Regions from separate parts of the Homo sapiens genome. Here region 1 is linked to region 2. The links come from fine-mapping of genetic effects on plasma protein levels. Region 2 holds a variant in brackets. A gene starts in the other region. All regions are shown on their reverse strands.

Evidence for each region. A credible set is the group of variants that fine-mapping cannot tell apart. PIP is the posterior inclusion probability: the model's chance that the variant is causal. Protein levels are from antibody-based Olink assays in UK Biobank. Linkage for the fine-mapping came from a reference panel and not from the study's own genotypes, which makes the PIPs less certain.
Region 1: it holds the start of C1orf56, and the variant in region 2 is the best candidate, but not a certain one, in a credible set for the plasma level of the C1orf56 protein (UK Biobank, PIP 0.80).

The regions. Positions count from the first base shown.
Region 1 is chr1:151,046,293-151,048,499 of GRCh38, reverse strand. It overlaps C1orf56 (chromosome 1 open reading frame 56), which reads right to left and starts at 749. Exons shown (of 2, transcript NM_017860.5): 1 at 1-749. The coding sequence starts at 652. BNIPL (BCL2 interacting protein like) reads right to left here. Exons shown (of 10, transcript NM_138278.4): 10 at 780-1,849. The coding sequence ends at 1,813. RefSeq lists enhancers at 1-91, 372-421.
Region 2 is chr8:19,954,563-19,959,054 of GRCh38, reverse strand. LPL (lipoprotein lipase) reads right to left here. Exons shown (of 10, transcript NM_000237.3): 6 at 2,972-3,214. Among named protein-coding and RNA genes, the nearest start is that of LPL, 18 kb to the right of the region's middle. The variant T/C (reference allele first, on the strand shown) is at 3,037.

The sequences.
Region 1 (2,207 bases), not on the chromosome of region 2:
TGGTGCCCGACTTGCAGTGGCAGTGCCACGGGCCCCAGGGCATCAGCACCAGCCGCAGATCCTCAGGAGATGGCATGGCTGTGGGTGAGGGTGACGGCCACCGGCTCGGGGTAGACCCAGGTGTGGACCACTGGCTCAGGGTGGCCTGCGAGCCTGGCAGGTCCTCAGTAGACCTCCCGGGGGAGCGCGGCAGGCTTGAAGTCAGCCTGATTTCAGGCTCCTGACTATTGGCTATAAACCTCGTGCTGGAACTCCCCGCTGTATTGGGAGTCGCACTGGGAAGCTCTCTGCTGGTGCTATCCTTTCCGGCATTAATCACAACCCCCTCTTCTGAAGACCCATCCTCCTCGTTAATGGCGGACGACCGGCTAAAGCCGGTGGACACCGTGGCGGCCAAGAGCTCGGCAGCCGCTGGTCCAGCCAGGCGGTCGGCGTCGGCCATGGCATCATTCTCGTCCTCTAGGATTATCCTTGTCTTCCGGGGAAGACCAGTCCGGGCGGTGCTCCGGTAGCTGCGGGTCATGGGGCCCCCAAAGCGTAAACTGACCCGCTGCATTTCGGTCGGAGTCTGGGTCAGGCCTTGGGCCCCCGCCGCCCGGGGACCCAGATTCAGCAGCAGGACCCACAGCAGCGCGCCGGCGGCGGGGACCATGGGGCTGGGCTCTTGGGGTTGGGAGGGTGGCCAGTGAGGCAAGCCCTGCCTCCTACCTTCGCTCCCTCCCTTCCGCTGTAGACCCACCGGGTCGTTTGAACCGAGGCCCGCGGGGAAGGGGGTGGGGTTCGACGCGCAGGCGCGCTCGCGCGGGCCGCGCGGGGTGCTCCTAAGGAACCTCTGCGGCAAGAACTCTGCCAGAACCGAAGGTTTGGGATGCAAGGGGTGGTGAAAGAGTCGTTCACTTCTTTGGAGCAGAGCTTAAATGTCTCATCGCAGTTTATTAGCCTCTACAGTTCTAAATTTACTAAAGAGGGCAAAAATACAGGTTTTGAAAGCACTCCTTCCCAGGCTCACAGGCAGCAGACATGACTTAGAAGGAAAAAGGGCATACAGCGGTTCTTCAAGATTTAATGAGCTGACTCTCCTGGCTCCCAGCAGGCAGGCTGGCTGTCAGGTAAGCCTCTTCCATCCAAGGTGGAAGGATCACAGTCCCTCCAGTTAGACAGGAGGAAAATTAGGACCCAAAAAGATGAAGTTATTTGCCCAAGGTTCTACAGCTAAAGTAGGATTAAAACCCAGAGCTCTGGCCGAGCGCGGTGGCTCACACCTGTAATCTCGGCACTTTGGGAGGCCGAGGCGGGCAGATCACGAGGTCAAGAGATCGAGACCATCCTGGCCAACATGGTGAAACCCCGTCTCTACTAAAAATACAAAACAATTAGCTGGGCGTGGTGGCGTGCGCCGGTAGTCTCAGCTACTCGCTGAGGCTGAGGCAGAAGAATGGCTTGAACCGGGAGGCGGAGGTTGCAGTGAGCCGAGATCGCACCACTGCACTCCAGCCTGGCGACAGAGCGAGACTCCGTCTCAAAAAACAAAAAACAAAAAAACCCAGAGCTCTGCATATCCCATACAAAATGACCCTACATTCAGCCTTCCGTCCCAGCAACTGGAATGAAAGTCACCCAGCAGATCAGTTTCCCAGCCTCAAAGCCCTGCTGAAAGTAGGGTCATGCAAAGGACAAAATCCCACTGAGAAGTGAAGATCCGGTGGTACTGAGGTTGGGGATAAGATGATTTACAAAACAGTTCAGATGTTTCAGGGATTCAGGTGTAGGCAGATCACTAACTGGTTCTAAGGCCTTTTATCCAGTCCTGTGCTATGTCCCTCCTGAGCCATGGAGATCCCGGTCCAGCCTAGGAGAGGGAGAGGGGGAGGAGAGAAGTGGTTCAGGGGGTAGGACTTGGGTTTTATTTTCTGGTTTGGGGAGAGAAGCCAGGTGAATTGGAAGAGCTAGATGATTGGGTTGAGTCATCATTTAGCACTTTTGCTCCCTAACACCCTCTCCCCCACTGGATATCATCTGTTCACTGCCAACACATCTCTTCCTAATTTCTAGGGCCAGTCTGAATCTCCTCTGCACTGTGATTATTCCTTTATTCCTTATTGCCTCTGCACTTATATGTATAGGTTTTTTTTTTTTTTCATTTATTCTTGTTGGATGCAGTAGTGTCCTTCATTTCTTCTCTGGGTGTGTGCAGTTTCCCCATATAC
Region 2 (4,492 bases):
TTTCAGAAAAGTGTGGTTATATGCATAGGAAAAACCCAAATGTGTCTGAATTGCCAAGCAGCATTAGGAAGTAGCCATCTTTGAGGGGTGCTAGGGAGATCAAATCAGAAGGCCAAAACACTCATGATGCTTTCTCCATGAACTCCGCCATCCTTGGCCATCTTGTGCCTTAGCATCTGGAGCAAGCATATTTGACATTTGCTTCTGTGTCACTATATGTCACTGTGTTTGTTTCATGAGTAGGTCTGTCCTCCACCCTGACTGTAAGCGGGCTTCCGGTCACAGGATCATGCCCATGCTCTTAATTCCCCCACCATCTAGCGCAGATTAGGTGTCTAGTAGGTGCATCATAGAACTTATTTCGTTGATTTTTCCATTCCGTAATGGGCACACCAAAATCTCACAAATCACTACTAAAGAACTTACTCATGTAACCAAACACCACCTGTTCCCCCAATAACCTATGGAAATAAATAAAATTTTTTTTAAAAAAGAACTTATTTCATTGAGCCATCAGTGAGGCCACAAGGACTGCCTTGTAAAGCCAGCCCCTAAAGTATTCTATACTAGGGACAGCCTCTGGAAGCAGGTAGTTGAACTTCTATATCTCCTCCCTGCCCCTCCTCTGGTCTCTACCAAAAACCCTGAGCAAATGGGCCTGGGGAGAGGTTAAAAGGAAAGGCAGCAGGACTAAAATAGAACCATGATGATGGAGGAAAAAAGAGTTCTTGGAGGCCAGGCATGGTGGCTCATGCCTGTAATCCCAGCACTTTGGGAGGCCTTGGTGGGTGAATCACCTGAGGTCAGGAGTTTGAGACTAGCTTGGCCAACATGGTGAAACCCTGTTTCTACTAAGAAAAATACAGAAATTAGTTGGGCGTGGTGGCGGGTGCCTGTAATCCCAGTTACTCAGGAGGCTGAGGCAGGAGAATCGCTTGAACCGGAAAGCAGAGGTTGCAGTGAGCTAAGATTGCGCCGCTGCACTCCAGCCTGGGTAACTGAGCGAGACTGTGTCTCAAAAATAAATAAATAAATAAATAAATAAATAAATAAATAAATAAATAAAATAATTCTTGGAATGTTTTTTCTTCTATATCCCACTATCCTTGGTCAGATTTTTTTCTTATTTGTGTTACTGTCTATTAAATGTATTTTCTCTTAAGCTGAGACACAGATCTCTTAAGACTGATGGTTTAGAATATAGCAGACCATATTTTTATGCTGCTTTAGACTCTTGTCCAGGTGAAAAAATTTTTAATAAATGTTGTGAACTTCTGATAACAATCTCTATTTTGTTTAGATACATCTCTTTTTATAATTAAAAAGTAGTCAGATACTAAGCAAAAACAGAAGAACAACAACAAAACCCCACAGCTGCTAAAAGATGAAGAGACATTGAATTGAGAATTAAGCAAAACCCTTGCAGGCAGCAGGACAGGCCAGAGCTGAAGAAGCTGGGAGTGGTGAGGTGCCCCTAGGGGACACTGACAGAGCCTTGAACCCACTGGTGCAGGAGGCAGGGATGAGTGAAGCCTGTCTGTGTCTTCAAGATTATGGTCCCACAGTCCTCTCTTTACCTCATACGCATTGCCTGATTTTGAAGAGTTAAGGTTTCCTTGAAGCACAGGTGCCTCAACCTCTATACCACGAAAGACACCTCTACAGATTCTAAGAATCACCTTACACATGGGTGCCATATGTTTTACCTGGGGCCACTGTTCTTTAATATCATCCCTTCCCTCAGGTTTCCATCTGGATTCCACAAAAGCCACCCTTCCTGAAGTTGGTCCCTCTCACCGGATTTATCCGAAGACCTCCTCTCTCATTTTCCGACCATTCCTTTAGGTCTGCCTCTAAACAAGAGGCCAAGCTTGAAATTCAAGTGTGAAACAAACTCCTGGCAAAATGGCAGTATCTTAGAAGGTGTGAGATATTCTTGCCTTCCAGGAATAGTTGCATTTAAAAAGACAGATGAGGCCAAGGAGGGCAGATCACCTGAGGTCAGCAGTTCGAGACCAGCCTGGTCAACACGGTGAAACCCCCTCTCTACTAAAAATACAAAAATTAGCTGGGCATGATGGTGCATGCCTGTTATCCCAGCTACTCCGGAGGCTGAGGCAGGGGAATCATTTGAACCCGGGAGGCAGAGGTTGTGGTGAGCCAAGATCATGCCCCTCTCCTCCAGCCTAGGAGAAAGCTAGACTTCATCTCAAATTAAATAAATAAATAAATAAGACAGATGGTCCTTGCCTTTATGTAAGTTGTGAACATTCTGTAAAGGGCCAGGGAGTAAATATTTTAGGCTCTGTGGGCTATCAACTCTGTTATGGTGGCATGAAACCAGCCTTTGACAATATGGTAATGAATGTGTGTGGCTGTGTCCTAATAAAACTTTGCATGAGCACATAGAGGGGAACAACAGACACTGGGGCCTCCCAGAGGGTGGGAGGAGGGAGAGCTTCAGGAAAAGTAACTAATGGGTACTAAGCTTAATACCTGGGTGATGGAATATTCTGGACAACAAACTCCCATGTCACAAGTTTACCTTTTTAGCAAACCTACATACGTACCCCTGAACTTAAAAGTTTTAAAAAAACTATTTACAAAAGCAGGAAGTAGGCTGGATTTGGCACAAGGGTTATAGTTTGTTGACCCGAGGTGGATGGTTCCAAATGAGCTCTGAGCTCTGTGCTGATAGCCTAGCCCATGCTAATGGCCACATTTACAGGGGAGGGCAGCGAGCAAGGCTGCAAATCCCACACTGAGCACTGGGACCTTGCTGACAATGGGAATTAGAAGCCTCAGACAAATGGATCAATGCAACCCCCTATCAACAGAAACACCAGGGCTCAGGGTTTAGTAACACCAGTCATCATCTCTGTTCCAATGGACAGAATCAGTACATGTGATGCAGTGAGCATGATGAAATAGGACTCCTTGGTTTCCTTATTTACAACAGTCTCCAGCCTACCTTTGTAGGGCATCTGAGAACGAGTCTTCAGGTACATTTTGCTGCTTCTTTTGGCTCTGACTTTA[T/C]TGATCTCATAGCCCAGATTGTTGCAGCGGTTCTTTCTACAACTCAAGCAGAGCCCTTTCTCAAAGGCTTCCTTGGAACTGCACCTGTAGGCCTTACTTGGATTTTCTTCATTCAACAGAGAGTCGATGAAGAGATGAATGGAGCGCTCGTGGGAGCACTTCACTAGCTGGTCCACATCTGGGTAAAAAAGAGACACCAAGATTGTATCTCGGCAGAAATTCACAAAGAGTGTTTCATTTGGCATGTCTAAAATAGGTGAGATGTGGTGTTAGAGTAGAATCACCCAAGGATATAGTCCTGTGCATTTATGATTGTAGGCCCTATTTCAGGAGATATTCTTGGTGGTAGCGGCCCACCCACCTTCAAGAGAGTGAAAGTTGCAAGTTCACAGGGAATTTTTGACTTTTGTGCTTCTTATATTTATGAGTATGTTTATGAAGCTGTAATAAGCCTCCAAGGTGGAGGTTGATTTCCTTGTTTATCTCATCCTTCTCTTACATTGAAAGTGTCTAACACTTCTAGGTGCTTCTAGAAACATATACCTGCCCCTTGCCTTACAATAAATTCTTCATAAGTCAAAAATACTGTAAGTCAAAATGCACTTAATACCCCCAAAACCCATCATAATGTCAAAAAGTTTTAAGTCAAACCATCACGTGCTTCTCAACTTAAAATGGTGTTACAGCCCAATTGTAAAGTTGGAAAACTGTAAGTTAGGGACAATTTGTATTTCTAGAAACCACATCTTAAGAGGGTAATTGTTAAATGAATTGTATTTTATCATTGATATTATGTACAATTGAGGGTTCTGCCCCTACTAACACTCTTTTATATCAAATGAACATAGAAATAATCAGCAATGCCATAAGAATGAATTCCTTGTAAGTTTTTAGGACAATCGAAAATAGTAACAATATGCTCTAAGTTCTATTACGTGCACAAAAATAACGAGAATATCCTAGGTAGGTCCCAATGTCTATAAAGTATGCAAGGGGCTCTTAAAAATAAATCGTAAACTGGGCGTGGTGGCTCACAGCTGCAATCCCAGAACTTTGGGAGGCTGAGGCAGGAGGATCACTTGAGGCCAGGAGTTTGAGACCAGCCTGGGCAACATTGCAAGTCCCTGTGATTGTGTGACTGCACCCCAGCTTGGGCAATAGAATAAGACTCTATCTCAAAAAACAAACAAACAAAAATCATAAATTTAACACAAGCTAACATTATTAAAGTAAAACATTAAGCTAACATTATGTTCTGAACATTTTGGAAGATTTATCCTAATTAACATCTTCTGTTCCAGTAACATCTAAAATCTTTCCATTGGCTTTGCAGCTACATTCAAGGTATGACAACATGTGGCCAGATAGCATTTTATGATGCCATTATTGAGGTCAGTGGAGTCTTCCTGTCTAAAATCCCACCTTTTTCTCTTGCTACTGTAAGTGCACTGCTCAG